Homo sapiens: one gene and its partners. The protein of the gene in region 2 interacts with the protein of the main gene of each other region in a pairwise test. Each region holds a gene or a part of one and is shown on either strand. Other genes may lie near its edges.

The links.
Region 1: the proteins of HMOX2 (region 2) and CNST interact in binary tests that used the Homo sapiens proteins (3 or more experiments, as listed by UniProt).
Region 3: the proteins of HMOX2 (region 2) and LRRC56 interact in binary tests that used the Homo sapiens proteins (3 or more experiments, as listed by UniProt).
Region 4: the proteins of HMOX2 (region 2) and BAAT interact in binary tests that used the Homo sapiens proteins (3 or more experiments, as listed by UniProt).
Region 5: the proteins of HMOX2 (region 2) and COA7 interact in binary tests that used the Homo sapiens proteins (3 or more experiments, as listed by UniProt).
Region 6: the proteins of HMOX2 (region 2) and MAPDA interact in binary tests that used the Homo sapiens proteins (3 or more experiments, as listed by UniProt).
Region 7: the proteins of HMOX2 (region 2) and SEMA4G interact in binary tests that used the Homo sapiens proteins (3 or more experiments, as listed by UniProt).

The regions. Positions count from the first base shown.
Region 1 is NC_000001.11:246,565,314-246,569,255, reverse strand, and holds the start of CNST (consortin), read right to left. Parts: upstream 2,801-3,942; 5' UTR 2,593-2,800; exon of another isoform or gene 2,467-2,592; intron 1-2,466. Other genes in the region: TFB2M (dimethyladenosine transferase 2, mitochondrial), read left to right, coding at 3,118-3,430. UniProt on the Homo sapiens protein: Required for targeting of connexins to the plasma membrane.
Region 2 is NC_000016.10:4,479,398-4,482,897, reverse strand, and holds part of HMOX2 (heme oxygenase 2), read right to left. Parts: exon of another isoform or gene 3,337-3,500; intron 1,135-3,336; exon of another isoform or gene 1,019-1,134; intron 1-1,018.
Region 3 is NC_000011.10:544,027-547,526, reverse strand, and holds part of LRRC56 (leucine-rich repeat-containing protein 56), read right to left. Parts: intron 2,808-3,500; coding exon 2,747-2,807; intron 1-2,746. UniProt on the Homo sapiens protein: Required for the assembly of dynein arms.
Region 4 is NC_000009.12:101,364,507-101,368,006, reverse strand, and holds part of BAAT (bile acid-CoA:amino acid N-acyltransferase), read left to right. Parts: intron 1-3,500. UniProt on the Homo sapiens protein: Catalyzes the amidation of bile acids (BAs) with the amino acids taurine and glycine. More than 95% of the BAs are N-acyl amidates with glycine and taurine.
Region 5 is NC_000001.11:52,688,348-52,691,847, forward strand, and holds part of COA7 (cytochrome c oxidase assembly factor 7), read right to left. Parts: intron 1-3,500. UniProt on the Homo sapiens protein: Required for assembly of mitochondrial respiratory chain complex I and complex IV.
Region 6 is NC_000015.10:43,337,172-43,340,671, reverse strand, and holds part of MAPDA (N6-Methyl-AMP deaminase), read right to left. Parts: intron 408-3,500; coding exon 320-407; intron 1-319. UniProt on the Homo sapiens protein: Catalyzes the hydrolysis of the free cytosolic methylated adenosine nucleotide N(6)-methyl-AMP (N6-mAMP) to produce inositol monophosphate (IMP) and methylamine.
Region 7 is NC_000010.11:100,972,504-100,976,003, forward strand, and holds part of SEMA4G (semaphorin-4G isoform 1 precursor), read left to right. Parts: intron 1-25; 5' UTR 26-409; coding exon 410-533; intron 534-625; coding exon 626-774; intron 775-1,043; coding exon 1,044-1,106; intron 1,107-2,481; exon of another isoform or gene 2,482-2,581; intron 2,582-3,500. UniProt on the Homo sapiens protein: Cell surface receptor for PLXNB2. May play a role in axon guidance.

The DNA of each region.
Region 1 (3,942 bases), on a different chromosome or scaffold from region 2:
AAAATAACATATATAAGATTAAATAAAATATACTACTAAAATTTTACCTGTTTCTTTTTACTTTCTTAATACCACTACTAGAAAATTTTAAATTACTTATATGGCTTGCATTGTATTTCTATTGAAGACTGCTGCTACAGACCTACAGCCTTAATTCTAACAGCAAGCAAGGACTATCACTTGGCATTTCCCAATTACAGTTGTCATTTAAAAGCCAAAAGAGGCTGGGTGTGGTGGCTCATGCCTGTAATACCAGTGTTTTGGGAGGCTGAGGTGGGAGGATTGCATGAGGCCAGGAATTTGAGACCAGCCTGGGCAACATAGCAAAACTCCGCCTTCACAAATAAATAAATATATTTAAATGTAAAAAGCAAGAAAAAAAGTATTTTAAAGGCGTGGTGGCTCACGCCTGTAATCCCAGCACTTTGAGAGGTGGAGGTCGGAGGATCACCTGAGGTCAAGACCACCCTGGCCAACATGGCGAAACTCCGTCTCTACTAAAAATACAAAAATTAGCTGGACATAGTAGCAGGAGCCTGTAATCCCAGCTACTCGGGAGGCTGAAGCAGGAGAAACTGCTTGAACCCGAAAAGCGGAGGTTGCAGTGAACCGAGATGGCACCAGCCTAGGCGACAGAGTAGACTCCATCTCAAAATTACTTCAAAAAGGCAAAAACAGCATAGGATAGAAAACCACACTTCTTAAGAAAAAAGATGGGAAATACTGCACACTAATCAAGTTTTTCTAATAAAGTATGTCTAAATCCTGATCATAAAGTTCATCTTTAAGGTGAAATCAACATTCTCAGCACCTGGGACCTCAGAAAAAAAATAAGATGTACAAAAATCTCTTATTATTCAAGTACCTTCAATTACAAACAAGTGAACCATCAACACTGTAAAAAGGGAATATTATAATGTAATTCTCTTTCCCAAAACCAAGAGAAAATAATAACACTCAAAAGCAAAATAAAAAATGACATCAGTTTTTCTAGGACTCAGTAGGCTAACTTTGGTCCACAAACATTATGAAATAAGACAGTGCATTTTAAAATAACTGTTTTGTTTTTAACCACAATGTGTTTATTTTTCTTTTTCTCTTTTTCTTTCTTTCTTTTTTTTTAAGGAGACAGAGTCTATGTTGCCCAGTCTGGCTTCGAACTCCCGGCAGCAAGTGATCCTCCCACCTTGGCCTCCCAAAGTGCTGGGATTACAGGCATGAACTACCATACCCAGCCACCACAGTGTTTTTTTTAAAAAGTCAGAAATTCAACGACACATTTCTATGAGTGAACCATGAAGACATAATTCTATTTTATCTGATTTAAAAATATTTAGGACTCCAGGTCCTGGAGGGGGAAAAAAGTGTATTTCTGAATCTATGAAAATGTTTTTTAAGGGGAGAGGGGGAGGCAGCTCAGTAATGGAGAGAGGTTCAGAGGATGCAAAGTCACCTCTAGAAAATTGTCAGTGAGAAAACTGTACGAAAAAAGAATTTAAGCAAATTAAGACCAATGAGTGAGTCCCCACAGTTTGCACAACAGTTGATGAGATATTTTCTATGATGTCCTAACAAATTTATAATACACAAAAGGTCATATTTAGTTGTCAATTCTTTATCCGCTTGAGCTTCATCAGATGAGTATAATCTTCAGACTATTTGCTGGGTGATACATTCCTTAGGAACCTTTTCCTCGTGCATTTAAATGCCAAACTCAATTACACTCTCAGTAGAGTAAGCAGAAAGGATTGTACGTATTCTAAGACACGGAGTTGATTGGCTGCCGTTTCTTGCCTTGGTGGTAAGGATAATGGGTAAAAGCTCTAAGTTTGATCCTGAAACACGGAAAACACTCTCAAAGAACCGTGTCTTCTAACATTGCCCAATAGGTAAAAAAAAAAAGACTGCCAAAATTTCCATTACAGCATCCTATTTTTAGTCTTCAAAATTGGGTCTTTTAAATCGCATTCCACAGTACGATGTGTTTGACTAAGTTTACATAAGGAATACAGTAAGCATCCTAAAGTCTTAATCTTTTTAAGCTTAGAAAGGAATTGTAAGCTTTTACATCTTCATTTTTAATCTTAACTTTAAGTCTTTTAAACACACAAACTGAAAAAATTAAGGAAAATATTGGCCCAGAGAGAGGAATGGAAGGGAGACACCACGCGGTTCTTGACAACCAAAGTGGTAGTGATGGGGGGGACCAGGTGTGGGGGGGAAATGAAAACCATCCACGAGGGTGGGGAGAGCGGGCTGTGGGCCACACAACAGAAAGGAACGGAGACCGTGGAAGCCGCAGGCTCCTCCAGGAGCCGGGTGAGGAACGACTTCTGGCGCTAGTCCCCTAGGGAGGGAGAAATTGGCGCGACGCGCAGCAATAGGAGACCCACAGTAGCTGAGAAAGGAGAGGAAAACAGGCGACCTGAGAGGCGGAGGAGGTAAGGGGACCGGGCTACACCTCACCCGGAGGGCAGAGGCTGCGCGGCTGGAGGAGGACAGCGCAGGGGGAGGAGCGAGAGGCTTCCGAAAGGCTTTCCATCCCGGCCGCGAGCCGGCGGGTCCCCTGCATCCCGCTCCTCCTCTCCTCACCTGGGAATCGGAGGCGCAAGGAGGGCTACCGCTGGGCGCCGGGTCTGTTTCCAGCCCCACTCGGCGACATGGCGGCCGACGTGCTGTCACGGAGCTTGCTCGGGTCTCCCCTGGCTCCGGTGGAGGAGACACCTCTCGCCTTTCCGCCCCGCCTCCCTCTGCGCACCCCTCGCGGCTGGCCGGCTGGAGGCTGGCGGCCCGCGACCGCGGAGCATAGAGCACTGGCGGCTAGAGAGGAAGCGCAGAGCGCGGACAACCATAGAGTACGAGTCCGGACACCAGCCGGATGGTCGGTCGCTCTCCTCAACGGTCCACTCACAATCCTCGGGCGGCTGAGCCGAGGCGGAAGCGGAAGTGAGGGAGAAAAGCAGGAAGGCTCCGCTGTTCGCATGCGCAGGCTCTAGTGTTTACTTCCGCTTGACCTGGCCCGGACGCCAGAAAATGTTCCACGTGGGATACCCTGCGTGGGGTTCACTGTAGTAGCTGCACTAGGTGATTCTTGGAGCGGGCCTGAGAGACAAGGACATGTGGATCCCAGTGGTCGGGCTTCCTCGGCGGCTGAGGCTCTCCGCCTTGGCGGGCGCTGGTCGCTTTTGCATTTTAGGGTCTGAAGCGGCGACGCGAAAGCATTTGCCGGCGAGGAACCACTGTGGGCTCTCTGACTCCTCTCCGCAGCTGTGGCCCGAACCGGATTTCAGGAATCCGCCAAGGAAGGCGTCTAAGGCCAGCTTAGACTTTAAGCGTTACGTAACCGATCGGAGATTGGCTGAGACCCTGGCGCAAATCTATTTGGGAAAACCAAGTAGACCTCCACACCTACTGCTGGAGTGCAATCCAGGTGAGTCCAGCTGAATTGCATTTTCTTGGATGTTCATCATTTATTCAAACGTATTGACCCTCCTCGGGGTGCTATTTTAGATACTGGGGGGTCTTTTTTGTTGTTCTTTTGCTTTGAGACGGAGTCTCGCTGTGTTGCCAGGCTGGAGTGCAGTGGGGCGATCTCGGCTCCCTGCAACCTCCGCGTACCGGGTTCAGGCGATTCTCCTGCCTCAGCCTCCCGAGTAGCAAGAACTACAGGCGCGCGCCACCACGCCCAGCTAATTTTCTTATTTTTACTAGAGACGGGATTTCGCCGTGTTGGCCAGGATGGTCTCGATCTCTTGACCTCGTGATCCTCCCCCCTAGGTCTCCCAAAATGCTGGGATTAGAGGCGTGAGCCACTGCGCCCGTCCAGATACGGGTCTTTGTTTGAAGCTCCTTAGTTGGAGAGATTGCCCACTACATAAGCGTAGAGTCTGTATCGTTAATGACACCACAAAGTATTTCTGTAGCAGCTTGCACTTTACACAA
Region 2 (3,500 bases):
CGACCACACCCGGCTAATTTTTTTGTATTTTTACTAGAAATGGGGTTTCACCACATTGGTCAGGCTGGTCTCAAACTCCTGACCTCAGGTGATCTGCCCTCCTTGGCCTCCCAAAGTGCTGGGATTACAGGCATGAACCAGCACGCCCAGCCATCTGTATCCTTCTTAATATCCTTTAGAGTAAATTGGTAAATGTAAGTAAAGTGTTTTCCTGAGTTCTGTGACCCACTCTAGCAGATTAATCAAACTCGAGGAGGGATTGTCAGAACTTTCGATTTATAGCTAGTAGGTCAGAAGTATAGGTGACAATTTACTACTTGTGACTAGTGCCTCAAGTTGGGACAGTTTTGTGGGACTGAGCCCTCAATTGGTGGGATCTGACGCTATCTCCAGATAGAGTATCAGAATTTAACTGACTTAGAGGACACCGCACCGGTGTGTCTACTAGAGAATTGCTTGGTGTATGGGGAAACAACTCCCATATATCTGGTATCAGAAGTGTTGTGTTGAGTGACTGTGGGAACAGAGTAGAAAAAAGACTTTGGGTTTTTTTGCCTTTCTCAAATAACCAGAAGAGCCACAAGCAAAGACAGAAAAGCATAACCTACAGCAGCTAGTTTCTCAGAACAGCATATTTTTCCCCTTCTGGGTCCACTTGCCTTTTTATAAACACAAAAAGTCTTACAGAGCAGGACAAATATGACACTGAACACAGACATTTGAAAATTTTGCTGAGATTGACAAATTCTCAAGTATATGGTAGAGGAATGGAGTTTTTTAAGTTATTTTCTAATTACTGGGATACCTGCTATTACCAAGCCAACCGAAGGCCTGACTTTCCCTCTGCCTTCCTACATAAAAAGAAGAGAGTAAAGGTTTAATGTCTTCTAGGTAGAAGTTAGATGACCACCCAGGCCACACTTCACCAAGTTTGCTTTTTCATCTGCCGTCAAACACTACTATCCACACTCAGCTTTGCTCATTTATTCCTTCCCTTCTCCCTCCTGCCCTCCTCCAGACTGCCACAGAGATAGTTCAAGGTGACAATGGCTCCTCTGCAGCAGCACATAGCAGTCTTGCCAGACACAACAGCAGATCAAGTAACTACTGAAGATGATGGCTACACTTGGACAGGTGACATTACATTATCATCAACAAACATTTATCACCCTCTTGAGTACTGTGACTACAAAGAAAGATAAGATCTTGCTCTGCACGTCAAGTACCTTTCAATCTAGAGAGAGAGTTAGGTGGAAAAATAAAAAGATAACATAAGGTGTACCATTCTATAAATATTAATTGTGCAATACAGACAACTGTGCTAAAGATAGAGCTTTATGTACCCGACTTTCCAGAACAATTCTGATTTCAAATACCCTGTTCCACCCAATTCTTTCAGTACACCTGTATGCTCAATGACAGGTGTTTCGCATAAAAATTATGATCATCACAGCTACTTATGAGGCCAGCCAGTCAACTAGATTAACTAAAATCAGGATGGCATTATAATGCCAGATTGTTTTATTTTTTTCTTTTTTTTTTTTTTTTTGAGACGGAGTCTCGCTCTGTCTCCCAGGCTGGAGCGCAGTGGCGCGATCTCTGCTTACTGCAAGCTCCGCCTCCCGGGTTCCCGCCATTCTCCTGCCTCAGCCTCCCGAGTAGCCGGGACTACAGGCGCCCGCCACCATGCCCGGCTAATTTTTTTTGTATTTTTTAGTAGAGACGGGGTTTCACCGTGTTAGCCAGCATGGTCTCGATCTCCTGACCTCGTGATCCGCCCGCCTCCGCCTCCCAAAGTGCTGGGATTACAGGTGCGAGCCACCGCGCCCGGACCAGATTGTTTTAATCACACTAGTACCTTCTTGCAGCCTCAGCACAGTGCTTTAATAGTAGGCCCTCTATCTCAGACATGAAAACATGAGCAAAAGCAAAAATACGAGGCCTGGCCGGGCGCGGTGGCTCACGCCTGTAATCCCAATGCTTTGGGAGGCCGAGGTAGGTGGATCACCTGACATCAGAAGTTTGAGACCAGCCTGACTAACATGGTGAAACCCCGTCTCTACTAAAAATACAAAAAATTAGCCAGGCGTGGTGGCAGACGCCTATAATCCCAGCTTCTCCAGAGGCTGAGGCAGGAGAATCGCTTAAACCTGGGAGGTGGAAGTTGCAGTGAACCAAGGTCACACCACTGCACTCCAGCCTGGGTGACAAGAGTGAAACTCTGTCTCAAAAAAAAAAAAAAAAAATAGTAGGCCCTTAGCCGGGCACGGTCGCTCCACCTCTAATTCTAATTGGGAGGCCAAAGTGGGTGGACCACTTGAGGTCAGGAGTTTGAGACCAGCCTGGCCAGCATGGTGAAACCCCGTCTCTACTAAAAATACAAAAATTAACTGGGTGTGGTGGCACACACCTGTAATCCCAGCTACTAGGGAGGCTGAGGAAGGAGAATCACTTGAACCCAGGAGGCAGAGGTTGCAGTGAGCCGAGACGGCGCCACTGCACTCCAGCCCTGGTGACAGAGCAAGACTCTAAGGAAAAAAAAAAAAAAAAGGCCGGGTGCTGTGGCTCACGCCTGTAATACTAGCACTTTGGGAGGCCAAGGAGGGTGGTTCGCTTGAGGTCAGGAGCTGGAGACCAGCGTGGCCAACATGGCGAAACCCCATCTCTACCAAAAGTACAAAAATTAGCCAGGCATGGTGGTGCATGCCTGTAGTCCCAGTTACTTGGAAGGCTGAGGCAGGAGAACTGCTTGAACCCCAGAGGCAGAGATTGCAGTGAGCTCAGATCAGATCACTGTACTCCAGCCTGGGTGAAAGAGCCAGACTCTGTTTCAAAAAAATAAAAAATAAAAAATAAAAAAGCCGGGCGCAGCGACTCATGCCTATAACCCCAGCACTTTGGGAGGCCAAGGTGGACGGATCACCTGAGGTCAGGAGTAGGAGACCAGCCCGGCCAACATAGTGAAACCTCATCTCTACTAAAAATACAAAAATTAGCCAGGCATGGTGGCATACGCCTGTAATCCCAGCTACTCAGGAGACTGAGGCTGGAGAATCGCTTGAACCCAGGAGGCGGAGGTTGCAGTGAGCTGAGATTGTGCCACCACACTCCAGCCTGGGTGACAGAGCAAGACTGTCTCAAAAAAAAAAAAAAAAAAAAAAAAAAAAAAAATAGAATAAGAAAAAGGCAGGCTGGGTACAAGATACTAGTCTGTTATGCCATTCTTCCCCACAGCCTTTTTAAAGTTACTGAGAACTATGACAGTAATTAGGCCTATAATACTCCTGGGAAGGAAACGAATCTATCTGTGAAACAAAAATTAATTTTTTCCCTAAGCTGAGTGAAGAGAATATCCACTTTGTTGGCTTCTGACATACACACTGACAGCACAGTTCACCAGACAACAATCACTCTTCTGGCGTCCCTTTCCCCAGGTATTCTATTCGCTTACTGCTCTATCTTCCCTGCCAGTCCACTCCCTCCTCTTTCCAGCCTGTGCC
Region 3 (3,500 bases), on a different chromosome or scaffold from region 2:
CAAAAAATTAGCCGGGCGTGGTGGCAGGCGCCTGTAGTCCCAGCTACTCGGGAGGCTGAGGCAGGGGAATGGCGTGAACCCGGGAGGCGAGATTGCAGTGAGCCGAGATTGCGCCACTGCACTCCAGCCTGGGCAACGGAGTGAGACTCTGTCTCAAAACAAAAAAAAACACAAAATAATAGAGGCTTATTTGTTAAGCTAAAAAAAAAAGTACAGCCATCTCCATTAGAATATCATTTACTCTTGTATTAGGGGCACTTTTTTTGTTCTTTGTTTTTGTTTTTTACGGTTTTTTGAGACGGAGTCTTGCTCTGTCACCCAGGCTGGAGTGCAGTGGCGCGATCTCAGCTCACTGCAACCTCCACCTCCCAGGTCCAAGTGATTCTCATGCCTCAGCCTCCTGTGCAGCTGGCATTACAGGCATGCACCGCCAAGCCCAAGCCCAAGCCCAGCTAATTTTTTTTTTTTTGAGATGGAGTTTTGCTCTTGTTGCCTAGGCTGGAGTGCAATGGAGCAATCTTGGCTTACTGCAACCTCCGCCTCCTGGGTTCAAGCAATTCTCCTGCCTCTGCCTCCTGTGTAGCTGGGATTACAAGCGCACACCATGCCTGGCTATTTCTTTTTTTTTTTGTATTTTTAGTAGAGATGGGTTTTCACCACGTTAGCCAGGCGGATCTTGAACTCCTGACCTCGTGATCCGCCTGCCTTGGCCTCCCAAAGTGTTGGGATTACAGGTGTGAGCCAACCCGCCTGGCTGGGAGACATGTTTCTAAGAAGTCCATTTTCCAAACCCATCCTAGTTTCTCGTTCGCGGTGTCGTCTGGGTGCCTGCTGCAGGCCTGACTTCATGTCCAGGCCCCTCTCTGTTCCAGTTCTGTGGGCTGCCCACTGTGTCTTTGACCCCAAAGTGTTTTCCAACTTTCTTCCATTTCCAGATCTTCATGTATTTTTTTTTTTTTGAGACGAAGTCTCACTCAGTCGCCCAGGCTGGAGTTTAGTGGTGCGATCTTGGCTCACTGCAAGCTCCGCCTCCTGGGTTCACGCCATTTTCCTGCCTCAGCCTCCCGAGTAGCTGGGACTACAGGCGCCCACCACCACGCCCGGCTAATTTTTTGTATTTTTAGTAGAGACGGGGTTTCACCATGTTAGTCAGTATGGTCTCAATCTCCTGACCTCGTGATCTGCCTACCTTGGCCTCCCAAAGTACTGGGATTACAGGCGTGAACCACTGTGCCTGGCCTACTTTATTTTTTTGAGGCAGAGTTTCGCTCTGTTGCCCCGGCTGGAGTGTAGTGGTGTGATCTCAGCTCACTGCAGCATCTGCCTCCCGGCTCACTGCAGCGACTCTCCTGCCTCAGCCTCCTGAGCAGCTGGGGTTACAGGCATGTGCCACCATGCACGGCTAATTTTGTATTTTTAGTAGAGATGGGATTTCTCCATGTTGGTCAGGCTGGTCTCGAACTCCTGACCTCAGGTGATCTGCCCACCTCGGCCTCCCAAAGTTCTGGGATTATAGGCGTGAGACACCGTGCCCGGCCCATTTTGATATTTGTTTGATAAACAGAAGTACAAATAAGGAAAATCAAGAAAACATTCAAAGAGAGGTTGCTTAATGAATACCCTTATCCTCATCTGGAAATAACTAGATGTGGCCCTTGGAGCCCAATTCACACAGCTGGAGAATGTTCTAGAATTCTGCCTGGAATTCCCCTGCCTTATGCTGCTGGGAACAGGCTACATAAAACCAGCAGCGTTTTCACAAAACCCACTTTGCCCAAACCCCCAGAATAAAGTCGGATGTTCCTTCAGCCTTGTTCTTTCCCTTCCGATGACGTGAGAGCCGCCAACGTCTTCAGCTCCGAATGTTGTGAGTTGCTGTGGGGCACGGAGCTTCCTGTGCTTCTCCTGGGAGCTGGTCCGGGTTCTGTACACAGGCTCTGCTGTGCCTCTCCCGGGAGCTGCCGTCTGGTCCGGGTTCTGTACACAGGCTCTGCTGTGCCTCTCCCGGGGGCTGCCGTCTGGTCTGGGTTCTTTACACAGGCTCTGGCTGTGCCTCTCCCAGGGGCTGCCGTCTGGTCTGGGTTCTACGTGCAGGTTCTGGCTGGTGGTTGCCGTTCTTGCCCAAACCCCAAGCTCGTGGCCTCATGGTGCAGCCAAAGTCCTGGGCTGCAATGAGCCGTGCGGGGGCCAGAAGGCCCCCAGTCCTTGGTTGGCTTTGGGGTGTTCACCAGGGACACCTCAAGGTGGGAGCTCTGGGCCCAGGTCAGGGGCACCTTTGTGGAGTTTGCTGGCCACACGACCTGGCATGACTGCCTTGGCCCTGGCCCCAGCTCTGAGTGAGGTGCTACCTGCAGCAGGGGCTCCCACCCATTGCAGACACAAGAGCTCCATGTGTAGGGGTCACACGGCAAGTGGGGGTACATCTGGGCTGAGCCAGAGACCACAGGGCATAGGCAGGACCCCCGGGAGTCAGGCTGGCCCAGGACCTCGTCCTTTCAACAAAGACCCTCTCAGAGACCCCCTCACACCTGCCTGAATGTCCCAGGCTCCCCCCACCTGCCCATCCACCCTCCACAGGGTCACGTGGGGTCAGGCAGCCAGCAGGATGGAGCTCTCTAGACCCCTGGGTCCCTGGTCCCAGCCCAAGTCCCCCCACTCCCACCAAGTTCTCCCCCCATCCCTGCAGGGCCTGTCCCATCGGACCCCCTCATGGCAGGGCCCCAGCCCACCCCCCTCAGGCGCTCACCTCAGGGAGCCCAGGTGGCTGCCGTTCAGCTTCAGTTGGTCCAGGTTGGGCAGGTGCACCCCTGTATGGCCACAGGAGGAGGAGGTTGGCCCGGCCCCTCACCCCGCCCACCTCTGCACCCTCCTTCACCCCTAGGCATCAGCACCCCCGGCCCCTCACTGCTCGTGGGCCAGCCTCACAAGCCTCCCTCCACACCACAGGAGGGGTTACGTGGCACCCAGGAACTGCTCCAGGGCTGCGGGCTCCTCTGGCCACCAAAGGGGTCTGCTGATTCTATGGGGCCTGGTAGAGGGTCTGGCTCAGTGGCCCTGAGCCCCCAAAGCCTCACGGCTCCGCGCCCCTCGTCTGTAGCCAGCCTGAATGCAGCACAGCATGGAGGGGTGTCCACACAGCAGGGAAGCTCAGACCATTGTCTATGGACTGCAGGAGGCCACTGGGCTCCAAGAGTTGGCTCAGAGAACTGGGGCCAGGCTGGCGTGGCTGGGTGGTGCTCCCTTGGCTCAAAGTCTGGGCCCCACCCCCAAGCTGCCTCCACACCCCTCCCCTGGCATCTCAGACCGTCATGCACAGTCCCACACACAACACAGGACCAGATCACTGCACGCCCCAGCCTGTGTTTCTGCACAGCCCAAGGCCCCAGGAAAAGGCTCTGCGTTCGGAGTCTTTTGTAGGATGGGGCATATGCCCCTGTGAGGCAGACAGAATCCCTGCATTGTGAGAAGGGTTGCAGAGTGGCTGGGTGCGGTGGCTCACG
Region 4 (3,500 bases), on a different chromosome or scaffold from region 2:
GATCTGACACTTGGCCAGAAGCCAGTGCCTTTTGATACTACAATGTGCACAGGCTAACTTCCTATGCATTTTGTCTTTCTGAGCAAAAGACACTGGATGAGAAATAAATCATGTGAATTATAAATAACATGGGCATGAATAGAATTTCAAGTTCACTGAGAATCGTACTTGGAAGTTAAGAGAAGTCATAGGATATTATGGTTATTTTTTAAAAAGGGACTGGCTGGGTGTGATGGCTCAAGCCTGTAATTCTAGCACTCTGGGAGGCCAAGATGGGAGGATTAATAGAGGCCGACAGTTCAAGACCAGCCTGGGCAACATAGCCAAACTCTTTCTCTATAAATACTAAAAAAATAGCTGGGTGTGGTAGCAGGCACCTGTAGTCCCACTTACTTAGCAGGGGCTGAGGAGGAAAGATCGCTTGAGCCTGGGAGGTTGAGACTGCGGTGAGCCATGTTCCTGCCACTGTACTCCAGCCTGGGTGACAAAGCAAAAAAAAAAAAAGGATAATGCATGCAAAATGCTTATCATAGAACCTGGCAATACTAAGCACTCAAAGATGAACAAATGTTAGACAAAACTTTCTGTGATCTGACTTCTACATACTGCTTCAGCCTTATCTTATAGCTCTAATTATTAACTAGCTATCATTTTTCTCATCACTATACTTAACTGGACAGATAATCTGTATTTCTTTGAAGAATGAGTCTGAATTTTTAGTTACTCATGAGCCCTTAAACATAATACTATTAGTGCTTTCCAATCCATATGCCTTTTAAAATTTTAAAACATGTGCTTTGCTACTATGATATGGGATAGAGTTGGAGTTTATTAAACCTTGTTAATTGCCCAATATTTTTTCTTTCCTTTCCTTTTTTTTTTTTTTTTTTCTTTTTTTGACAGAGTCTCGCTCTGTCACCTAGGCTAGAGGCAGTGGCACAATCTCAGCTCACTGCAACCTCCACCTCCCAGGTTCAAGCAATTTTCCTACCTTAGCCTCCTGAGTAGCTGGGACTATAGGCGCGTGCCACCATACCTGGCTAATTTTTGTATTTTTAGTAGAGACGGGGTTTTGCCATATTGGGAAAGCTGGTCTCCAACTCCTGACCTCAAGTGATCCACCTGCCTTGGCCTCTATTTTTTTTTTTAATAAGAATTGAAATAAAATTAAATCTCCATACTACATGTTTTTTTATATAAGGATCACCAAAATATAATCAGGTTTGCAGAAATAAGATAAGCAACAATTACTGACAATCTACTGATGTAGTGAACATTTTAAATGGCTATTTTTGATGCATATAATGGAACTGCCCTCGAAATGTCAGTCAATATTATCATTGTGAGCCTTCTTCTTGGCTTAGATGAGAAGTGGAGAGGTTATGTGATTCTCTTTTTTCACGGTCTTTGCCTCGTTCCCCTTATATTTGCTGCATGACTTTTTCATCACTGTTCTTGCCAGTGTCACATAGATAGCTAGTTAATGATTAATCCAGGCCTGGAAACCAGATTTTTTTCCCCAGACTCTGAGAAATTCCATTAAACCTACTTCACATTGTCTCTTCTGCAGGATGATAGAACAGAGATCTTTCTTGCAGGTCTTATTTCTCTATGTGTTGATTTTAAGTAACTTCTAAGAACTCATAATTTCCTGATCCCAAATTTTGTGGTAGAAGTTGTAACAAGAGTTACTGTTTTGGCAAGGGACAGAAACATATTAAAAAGCCTGCACAGATATGAGTCATGCTTTTTTGTTCTTTCGTGTTATACTTGCTTTTACTTTATCTTTCATGGCCAAATCCACTCTGAGTTCCCATCTTTCCTTAACATAACTGTCGCTCTCTATCTTATATATTAAGATATAGGATTGGGAGGGGTGGGGGAGAAAGGTAGGTCAAAGGGTACAAAGTTTCTGTTAGACAAGAAGACTAAGATCTGGTGATCTGTTGCACAGCATGGTGACTATAGTTAATAATAATGTATTGTATATTTCCAAATTGCTAAAAGATTAGATTTTAAATGTTCTTACCCCAAAGAAATGGTAAGTTTGTGAGGTAATGGATATGTTAATCAGCCTGATTTGTTCATTCCACCATGTATATATGCACTGAAATATCACATTATGCACCATAAATATGTATAATTATTATTTGTCAATTAAAAATAAAAATTAGGCCAGGCACAGTGGCTCATGCCTGTAATCCCAGCACTTTGGGAGGCCGAGGTGGGCAGATCACCTGAGATCAGGGGTTCAAGACCAGCCTGGCCAACATGGAGAAAACCCAACTCTACTAAAAATACAAAAATTAGCCAGGTGTGGTGGCGGGCGCCTGTAGTTCCAGCTCGGGAGGCTGAGGCCAGAGAATTGCTTGAACCTGAGAGGCGGAGGTTGCAGTGAGCCGAGATTGAGCCACCACACTCCAGCCTGGGTGACAGAATGAGACTCAGTCTCAAAAAATAAAAATAAAGTAAAAAATAATAAATTAAAATTAAAATTAAAAAAATACAGAATTTCAGAGCTTGAAAGGAACTTTTAATTGATTCAAGCCACCCCTGTTAAATATACAGGGTAGGAAATAGAGAGTATATATGACTCATTCCATTTGTTTAGTTTTTTTTTTCCCTCTTACCCTAAGAATTTCTCACATTTTCATCAGCTTGGCATGAGTTGTATATTGATTCATGTGTTTCTAAGTAGTAGGGAAAATATCCCAAACATTGGTTTATAAAATGCCTTTAAAATATAGGAGATCAATTAAAATAAATACAGGAAGTCAACAAAGGTTTTAGAAAAGTGATGCTTCTCTCTAGGACTCTGTCCTTGCCAGGAGCCAGTGCTCAAGGAGAATCGGAGCTTTATTTTGTGACACAACAATTTTCTTTAACTCCTCCTTAGAATTCCCAACCAAATTGGTAACTGGGAGCAATACACTCAATACTCAAAAATAACTCATGAACATGTAGTTTCCTTTTCATTTTTACTGCTGTTACCTTAGTTCAGGACAGTATAATTTTCTGCTTTTATCAGTGCATTAATCTGTGGCTTTTCTGCCTCCATTTATGCAAGTCAGAGTTGTAAACACAACTATTTTACTCGCTTGCTTAAGAGTCTCCCTATTTATTATAGGATAAAGGCCAGGCTTCCTAGCATGTTAGACAAAGCTTCCTATGATCTGACTTCTGCATACTTATTCAGTCTTATCTTATGCCCATCCTTAAAATTTGTCCTAATTTTCCTCCTTAGTTAGGAAAAAAACTGAAGATGCTTAATATATCTTTCAAAGCTATGCACCATAAAGTTGGTGTTTTCTGTTTCAGACTTATTATGTTATTTCCCACCTTATACTCTAAATTAAAATAATGAAGAATGACTTGTGGTTCCTCTAAATGCCTTGCTCTTCATTGCCTCTCAGTTTTTGCATGAGTTTCTCCTATGGTGAATACATTAGGAATGTTTTGGCTACATTTCTCAGAAAAGTGGCTGATGGTGGCTTAAACAT
Region 5 (3,500 bases), on a different chromosome or scaffold from region 2:
CTTCCCATCTCAGCCTCCCCAAGTAGCTGGGACTACAGGCACACACCAACCACTATGCCTGGCTAATTTTTAAATTTTTTTGTAGAGAAAGGATCTCACTATGTTGCCAAGGCTAGTCTTAAACTCTGGGACTCAAGCGATCCTCCCACCTTGGCCTCCCAAAGTGCTGGAATTACAGGCGTGAGCCACCACACCTGGCCAACAACAATTCCTGAATAAAGTTTAAGGCTGAGCACAGTGGCTCACACCTGTAATCCTAGCACTTTGTGCAGGATGATTGCTTGAGGCCAGGAATTCGAGATCAACCTGGGTGACAGAGCAAGACTTTACCTCAAAAAGAAAAAAAAATGTCCATACTATGAGCTCAGGCAGCATGAAAGGTAGCCTGGCATAGTGCACAGACCTCCTAGCTTTCTCAGCCGTAGAATCTTTTATTCAGATGATACCTTATGAGGAAACTCAAACAGGTAAAGGAGGTGAAAATTGGGAATGATAATAATATCTACCTCATGGGGTTACAGTGAGAACATGGCATATGACAAGCACTTAATTGTTTATTAATTTAAACATACAGTGGGCCCTCCATATCCATGGGTTCAACCAACCACACATCAAAAATATTAGGGAAAAAATAACAATACAATTAAAAAATACAAAATATATAAAATAGAACAATTATTTACTCAGTATTTACATTGTATTAGATAGTCTAAGTCAAGATTGTCCAACCCATGGGCCTGGGATGGCTTTGAAAGCGGCTTAACACAAATTCATAAACTTTCTTAAAACATTATGAAATTATTATTATTATTATTTTTTTTTTTTTGAGATGGAGTCTTGCTGTGTCGCCCAGGCTGGAGTGCAGTGGCGTGATCTTGGCTCACTGCTACCTCTGCCTCCAGGGTTCAAGCGATTCTCCTGCCTCAGCCTCCCAAAATGCTGGGATTACAGGTGCATGCCACCACGCCAGGCTAATTTTTGTGTTTTCAGTAGAGACGGGGTTTCACCACGTTGGTCAGGCTAGTCTTGAACTCCTGACCTCATGATCCGCCCGCCTCAGCCTCCCAAAATGCTGGGATTACAGGCGTGAGCCACTTCACCTGGCCTATGAGATTTTTTTTGTGATTTTTTTTTTAAGCTCATCAGCTATCATTACTGTATTTTATATATGGCCCAAGACAACTCTTCTTCCAATGTGGTCCAGGAAAGCAAAAAGATTGAATACCCCTGTTCTAAGTAATTGATTTAAAATACACAGGAGGCCAGGCGTGGTGACTCACGCCTGTAATCCCAGCACTTTGGGAGGCCGAGGTGGGCGGATCACCTGAGATCAGGAGGCTCAAGACCAGCCTGGCCAACATGGTAAAACCCCATTTCTACAAAAATACAAAAATCAGGCTGGGCGCGGTGGCTTACGCCTGTAATCCCAGCACTTTGGGAGGCTGAGGCGGGTGGATCACGAGGTCAGGAGTTCGAGACCAGCCTGGCCAACATGGTGAAACCCCATCTCTACTAAAAATACAAAAAAAATGAGCTGGGCATGGTGGCAGGGGCCTGTAATGCCAGCCACTCAGGAAGCTGAGGCAGAAGAATGGCATGAACCCCAGAAGTGGAGCTTGCAGTGAGCAGAGATCGCGCCATTGCACTCCAGCCTAGATGACAGAGCATAACTCTGTCTCAAAAAAAAAAAAAGAAAAAAAAAAAAAAGATGATTTTAAGTGTAAAAAGAGCATGGAGGAAAAGTATAGTGCAAGGCAGGCAAGCAAGCAGGGACCAGATCATGCAGGGTCACATTAAGACCCCTGAATTTAATCTTAAAAACAATGGGAAATCACTAACAAATAATTTTAAGTAGAAGTGGTGGCAGGGCTCACTTTTTTTAGTTGTTTGTGTGTGTGCAAAACTTCAAATCTCCATGTACCATTACTCAATCTCAAAAAATATAAACATTTTAACATTATTCTTTTAAGTAACCATTCCAAATCCACCTAGAAATAACCATCATTATCATTAAGTGAACACCATTCCAGTCATCTTTGTAGCATGTGTTCAGATTAAATGCTGGCTGGTTGAATGGATACTAGATAGAAGTGTTTGGAAAAATTGGATCACAAATGCTACTTGTAAGTAAAAAATTTAACTTTGATTTTACTTGAATTTATCAGAAGAAAACCAAACTGAAGTGAAACTAAGGAAACTGCTGACCTACAAATTAATATTTCTAGCCCATAGTGACATTTCCTAAATGAGCCACTAGGGCTATCAAGAGTTTAGAAAAAATATTAAAAGGTTAGAATCATTTTTATTTTCATTTATTTACATTTATTTATTTATTTATTTATTTATTTAGAGACAGAGTCTTGCTCTGTGGCCGAGGCTGGAGTGCAGTGAAGCAATCTCGGCTCACTGCAGCCTCCACCTCCCGGGCTCAAGTGAGCCACTGCACCTGGCCTAAAATTTAGTTTAAAAAATTAAAATGGGGCCAGGCACGGTGGCTCACACCTGTAATCCCAGCATTTTGGGAGGCCAAGGCGGGTGGATCGTTTGAGGTTAGTTCAAGACCAGCCTGGCTAACATGGCGAAACCCCATCTCTACTAAAAATACAAAAATTAGCTGGGTGGTAGTGGCAAACGCCCCTGTAATCCCAGCTACTCGGAAGGTTGAGGCAGGAGAATCACTTGAGCCAGGGGGTTGTGGTGAGCCGAGATCATGCCACTGCACACCAGCCTGGGCGACAGAGTGGGACCCTGTCTCGGGACCCTGTCTCAAAAAAAAAAAGACATCCTTGGCCAGGTGCAGTGGCTCACACCTTACCCTAGCACTTTGAGAGGCCAAGGTGCAAGGATTGCTTGAGGCCAGGAGTTTGAGACCAGCCTGACAACATAGTGAGATCCTGTCTCTACAAAAAATAAAAAATTAGCTAAGCATGGGGGCACGTGCCTATAGTTCCAGCCACTGGGGAGGCTGAGGCAGGAGGATTGCCTGAGCCCAGGAGCTCAAGGCTGCAGTGAGTTATGATTTTATCACTGCACTCCAGTCTGAGAAACAGAACAAGATCCTGTCACAAAAAAAAAAAAAAGCTGCCTGTCAAAGGTCCTATTACTTATTTATGTGTGTGTGTGTTTTTTTTTTTTTTTTTGTGAGACAGAGTCTTGCTCTGTTGCCCAGGCTGGAGTGCAGTGGCGCGATCTCAGCTCACTGCAACCTCTGCCTCCAGGGTTCAAGTGATTCTCCTGCCTCAGCCTCCTGAGTAGCTGGGATTACAGGTGCGCGCCACCACGCCCAGCTAATTTTTTTTTGTATTTTTAGTAGAGATGGGGTTTCACCATGTTGGTCAGGCTGGTCTTGAACTCCTGACCTCATGATCCACCCGCCTTGGCCTCCCAAAGTGCTGGGATTACAGGCATGAGCCACCGTGCCTGGCCTGTGGTGGTTTTAAATATGTCCATAAGTTCTTTAATATTCCTTCCTCTTCAAGAAGTGGAATTTAAGTCCTTCC
Region 6 (3,500 bases), on a different chromosome or scaffold from region 2:
GGCTCACACCTGTAATCCCAGCACTTTTAGAGGCTGAGGTGATTGTTGGGCCCAGGAGTTTGTGGTTACAGTGAGCTATGTTTGCACCACTGCACTCCAGCCTGGGCAAGACAGCAAGACCCTGTCTCTAAAACAAACAAAATGAACATCATTAATGTACATCAGAGAGAGGACTTGGACTGTTGACTAAAGGTTCAATGAAATACAGAACAACACAATAGTATAAAAGTTAGTGCTTCATATTCCCACTCACAAACATGTGAGTGATCAAAGCACATAGGAAAAGGACAGTACATTTGCTGAGAAGTATAAATTCTACCAGTAGCATTTTCTCTTCTGGGTGTGCTCCTTAGTTCCAGGTACTTGACGCCGTCATCTGCAAATTCTTTTATGACATCTTTTGTGACCTGATAATAAAGATAACGTACACAATATTGATAATGTTTGGGTAAGGGTCCCAATGAATGTGCCAAGTGCTACAGCTTTATTTTATTCATTAAATCTGATTTGCAAGTAATGTTGGAAGTTTCTCACGTGGTAGAGATTATCCACTTTGTCACATCCCTGATGGAGACTATGCAGGGCTGCAATATTTCCAATCACTCCCATCACCCCTCATTCCCACATTCAATCCCAATCTGCACATCAGCTACACCCTTTGCTTCTTTTCCCCCTTTTAAACATTTATTTCCTAGTATTTATAATAGCAGATTGATAAAATAGAGAAATGGTGCAAAACTAAAACCAGCTGGAACCATCTGTATGTGTAGACTGCTAGGAAATGCACATACAGAAATAAACAGCTAAAATGATTAGGTATTACTGATGTGCTATTTGAAGTCATGGCTTAAGGTTTTTATTCAAGTTATTTAGGAATAAGTTACATTTTTCAATAAATTCTGGCAGGGTTAAATTTTCTCGAGAAGTACTTAGGGCAAAGAAAGTAGGTGATAAATATGAGTAAAACTGTATCCAATTTAGTGCAAATCTCAATAATCCAAAAGTTCCTGAAGGATTTCCTGAAGGATGTTTTTCCTTTCTGCCTTCAATCCTAAAAAATCTAGAAGAAAAAAAGGCTAGGTTGGCGAAGCTGTGACAAACTGCCGTAATTAGTCCTTACAGTTGGTATCCTAATCTTAATCTGCTTTGACTACACACACACAAGCATGTGAGTGCAGTGTCCTGGCAAAGCAAGAGGGGCTGGCTGTTCATACATACAGTGCCTAACAGTATGGCACTACCTTGGTGAATTCATAGCAATCCAAGTTGTAGGCCTCTTCTTTTTTCTTTTTCCACTAAAGACAAAAATGAACTTATTATAATGTAAGTGGAATGGGTAGCTCAGTTTCATCAAGAGGTCTAAAGACCCAGATTCTGAGAATACACAGCCAAAGATAATACATCTGCATTCTAAATCACATGAAACTCCAGGACCAAGCAAGATACCACTGCTGCCTCCTCCAAGGAGCATGATACTGCAGCCTCCATGCCATCATGAATGGCATTGGCCCCACGGCACTGCTACTCCAGGAACTCCCTCTTGCTGTCACTGACACCATGAAATTGTGGCCTCACCTTTGTATTAATAGGTTGAGGAATCTGGATCTTGTCACTGCCCCAGAACAGAACAGACCCACACTCAGCTACCCCAGCTCACATGAGACTAATGCAGAAAGCTGTTTGACAACGAGGAATACGGTTGAAGTGAGGGTTTGAAATAGTAGTCCTTTTCAGTGACTACTATCCAAGGCTCCCTCTTTCTGAGTGGCTAGGTACCTGTAAAACCAAATGAACAATGAAAAACTAACAAGTATGGAGCAAGAACAAAGGGAGGAAGATTTATCTAGGCCACAGTGAAGCCTACAGAACCATCCCTAACCCACATCCAAGAACATTTCCCTGGGGTCTACATCTGTGTTTGCCAGATTTAGCCCTTTCTGTGATGTGCAGCAGGTAGTGCGGTAGGTACTGAGAACAGCTCTTTGGGCTTTCCTCTCCTATGCGCTGGACTGAGAATATCTATTCAAATTCTTTTTCCAGACAAAGTACATCACAATTAGTTAAGTTCCTACTTACTCAAACCTCTCTAAGACTGTATAAGCTTGAATGGGAAAGAGCATGAGCTCTGCAACCAGATAGTACTGCCACTTACTCTGTGTGTGTGATCTTAAGCAAGTTACACTTAACCTCTTTAAGCCTATTTTTTCATCTACAAAAAGGGAACAATAAAAATACCTACTTCTGAAAGTAGTCCTAAGAATAATGTCTGGTACATGTAATAACAAGTATCATTTTTTCAGCCACACTCCAATCCTCTCTTTGAGATTATACCCAGGTCACCTTGACTAGAGTTTTAAGTGATCTCCCTCACACTCAGTTCTACATTTACAATCTCTTAGTTTATCCTCATAGACGTTTCATTTATCATATGGGGCACCCCATTGTCACCCTCTGAACCACCTAGTAGCACTAGGTCAAATGCACAGAATCTTCTCACTTCATTTAATAAAGCTTTTCAACTTTCATTTTGAAATGAATGTAGCAACAAGCATGCCATTAATATACCCATAGAGTATTAAACTGTCAAAGTTTCAATTTAATCATTTTGCTCTATAACACTCATCAACAAAGTGAGACCAGGGCCCCTGTGGTGGATATTCTTAGCTATGTTCAATGGTATCTTTTGAGACGCTGCTTAGAGAATGCCCTTTTGGTTCCCTATAAATCCTTATGTGTGTGTCTAATGCAGAGCTTACCACACTATGTTGCAGTATCTGCTTATGGGTCTGTCTCTCCAACCTAATTATAAATTTCTCAGGGGCAGAAACTGTGTCAATCTCTCTCAGACTTTAGCACAGTGCCTGGAACATTGTGGGCACTCAGTCAACTTTTGTTGAATGAAACTATTAGAGTTACCTCTCCTCTAAAAGGTGCTTAATTTACTTACCACTTATCATGAAGATCAGTCTTTACCAAAGAGGAAAATTTTTGCTTGATCAGTCAAAAGTTACCTCTCCAGAAACAGGTTATACTTTCTTTGCATTTTTTTTCTACTGGTTAAGATCACTGACACAATTTTGCTTCTCTCCATTTAGAAAGAGAACATTTTAAAATGCCATCCTAGTCAGATCAATGATACAGAAGACAATCTTCCATGTCAGACTCTAGTATCATGGAGCTTCAGATAAGAGAACACAGTGGTATCCTTTGTGCCCTCAGAGGGAAAGCACAATTTCCCTAGGGATTAATCACTTACTCTCTAAGCTCTTCTTGAACTTCTTCCTTCTCTATAATGTCCACCCATACAGTAAGTCTCCTATGTAATACAGACAATGCCTTATTAAGGATATCCCCATCTGTGGTCTAATACTTCTCTTTTTTTTTTTTTTTTTTTTTGAGACGGAGTCTCGCTCTGTTGCCCAGGCTGGAGTGCGGTGGCGCGATCTCGGCTCTCCGCAAGCTCCACCTCCCGGGTTCACATCATTCTCCTACCTCAGCCT
Region 7 (3,500 bases), on a different chromosome or scaffold from region 2:
TTTTTTTTCCCCGTTTTTTCTTCAGAAAACGGACCTCAGAAAACCAGGACTAGCTCTACTGTCGGGGGCAGGGTGACCCCATCAGTAACCTACAACCCCTCTAGAACTTCACAACTCCCTCTCACCATGGAGTTTGCATTTGATGCAGAAAGGCATGTGATCCCTCCCTCCTTCTGACCTCTTAGCTGGGGATTCCATGGCCACACAACCCTGTGACTCCATGTCCCCCCGATTCCAGGACCCCCCATGGCCCCATGATTCCTTGACTCCTATGACCTTATGACCCCTGACCTTCCAAGTGACTTCCTTGGACTTTGACCCCTGTGACTGTGCTTCCCATTCCCCGCCCCCACAACCTGTGACTCTGGCTCCCTTTGGGGGTCTTGTTAGTCTGGGCCTCCCCAGGAAGATGTGGGGGAGGCTCTGGCCCCTCCTCCTCAGCATCCTCACAGCAACTGCAGTCCCAGGACCCTCACTGCGGAGACCGTCTAGAGAACTAGATGCCACCCCTCGGATGACCATACCCTATGAAGGTTAGACCCTCAACCTCAAAAGGCAGCAGAAGCCAGGGCTGGGGGTGGGGAGGCACCCCAGAACTAGGGCTCACTGTTCCTGCTCTCCCCAGAGCTCTCTGGGACCCGGCACTTCAAGGGCCAAGCCCAGAACTACTCAACACTGCTGCTGGAGGAGGCCTCAGCAAGGCTGCTGGTGGGAGCCCGAGGTGCCCTGTTCTCTCTCAGTGCCAACGACATAGGAGATGGGGCTCACAAAGAGGTCAGGCCCTGGAACCTGGACCACCCAGAGGGTCTCTATGCTTATCCAGCTCCCTGGGACCTCAACTTCCTTAAAACCCTGCCAGCCTTCCATAGCCCCCTGGTCAGACAGCACTGCCCTTCCCAGCCCAGGTGTTCCTTGCATTCAGTGTTCCTCCTGAAATTGATCCCCACCCCAATTTCCCCAACTCTGTGGGGTCCTATTGCCTGGTCCTATGAGTAATAGGTATTGGGGTCAGTGCATCAGCCTATTCCCTTTGCCTCCACTAGATCCACTGGGAAGCCTCCCCAGAGATGCAAAGCAAATGTCATCAAAAAGGGAAAAACAACCAGGTATGTGGTCTGCCCTGTCCCCAGCTCCTTTCCTCCCCTTCTTCCTCAATCAGGGATGCCAGGATTGTTGGGGACACAGATGGGTAGGTACAGACCTGCCAGTCAATCTCAGCAACCACAGTAAACATTGTAAGTATTGCCAGAGTGGCAAGCCATGGGCACAGCATTTTTTTTTTTTTCTTTTTTTGAGGTCGGATCTCACTCTGTCATCCAGGTTGGAGTACAGTGACATGATCATAGCTCCCTGTGGCCTTAAACTCCTGGGCTCAGGGGATCCTTCCACTTCAGCCTCCTGAGTAGCTAGGACCACGGGCACATGCCACGCCCAGCTAAGTGTTTTATTTTTTGTAGAAACAGGGTCTTGCTATGTTGCCCAGGCTGGTCTTGAACTCCTGGCCTCAAGCAGTCCCCCTACCTTAGCCTCCCAAAGTGCTGGGATTACAGATGTAAGCCATTGCCCCCGGCATCTGGGCACAGTACTTCTAATTCAACCATCTGGTGGCCTACTAGTTTGTCCCGCAGTGGCATCTTCATCTCCTCTGGGATCCCAAATAATCAAAATGGCAATAAGTAGGCTGAACGCGGTGGCTCACATCTGTAATCCCAACACTTTGGGAGGCTGAGGGTAGGAGGACAACTTGAGTCCAGGAGTTCAAGATCAGCCTTGGCAACACAGCGAGATCTGTCTACAAAAAAAATACAAAAATTAGCCAAGTATGCTGGCGTGCACCTGTAGTCCCAGCTACTTGGGAAGCTGAGTGGGAGTATCACTTGGGCCTGGGAGGTTGAGGCTGCGTGAGCTATAATTAAGCCACACATTCCAGCCTGGATGACAGAGCAAAACCCTGTCTCAAAAAAACAAACCAACAAAAAACAGTAAGTAACCTCTACAGATGCTTACTTACGATGGGTTACTTACCAATAAAACCATCATAATAAATTGAACCATTGTTAAGTCAGCAACTATCTACAGCAAGTGATGATTTAGCTATTATCTCAGTTAATTCTAAAATAACCCTATGAAATAGTATTATCCTGCATTTTGCAGATGAGAAAAATGAGTCTTTGGTCAAGGAATAGGTCAAATACCCAGTATTCCATGGACAGGCATTAATGAAGCATCAGCCCTTTCCAGCTAAAGAATAGGGTGTCTCCAGGGGTCCCATGTCTGGCTAGGTAATGGCTCCATCTGGAGAGCTTTTACAAAATAAACGGCCCTGGGCTGGGCATGGTGGGTCACACTTGTAATCTCAACACTTTGGGAGGCCAAGGCAGGAGGATCACTTGAGCCCAGGAGTTCGAGGCCAGCCTGGACAATATAATGAGACTCTATCTCTAATAAAAAATAATTAAAAAAAAATTCCCAAGATCCACTGGGCCAAGGTGGGCCAGGGGTGGTGTTGGGACAGCTCCGTTTAAAAAGGCATCTCCAAGAGCTTCCATCAAAGGCTGCCTCTTGGTGCAGCACAGGTAGAAAATGGGGCTGGGGAGGCAGATGGAACCAGGTCATGGAAGGCCACAGATGCCCAGCTGGGAGTTTGGGTTTTATTCTGTGACAGTGAACACCCTCAGAATTTGATACTTTAGAGGCTCTAACTTTAATGTATCACCCAGGTATATTATAAATGCAGATGCTAAACTTAGTAGGTCTGGGGAAGGGCCCAAGAGTCTGCAATTCTAACAAGCTCCCAAGTGAAGTTGATGCTGCTGGTCCCCAGACCACACTTTGGATAGCAAGGCTTTATAGAACAGTTCCCAAAGCATGTTCTGAGGAACATTAATTTTCAAAGGAGGGGTTTAAATGTCAAATGAGTTTGGGAAACACTACATGCCCAGTCCCACAATGCACAGCAACATCCTTCAGGCTCTAGGAAGTAAGCCCAGTAAAGATAGGTTTCACCTGTGGTTTCCAAAGTTATTTGACCAGAGAATTCCTCCCTACCCCCCTTTAAAAAATGTAAACATCCGCTGGGCACGGTGGCTCAGGCCTGTAATCCCAGCACCTTGGGAGGCCGAGGCGGGTGGATCATGAGGTCAAGAGATCGAGACCAGCCTGGCCAACATGGTGAAACCCTGTGTCTACTAAAAATACAAAAATTAGCCCGGCATGGTGATGCACATCCATGCGAGTAGTAGTCCCAGTCACATCACCATGGTGTTGAGAGTAGTAGTCCCAGCTACTCGGGAGGCTGAGGCAGGAGAATCTCTTGAACCCGGGAGGCGGAGGTTGCAGTGAGCTGAGATCATGCACTGCACTCCAACCTAGCGGCAGAGCAAGACTCCGTCTCAAAAAAAATAAAATTAAAAAAATAAATAAACATCTTGGGGAAACATCACTTTAGGAATATTTATCTGGCCCCAGGCACTGGATGGATGAAAATAGGGTGAGTCTGG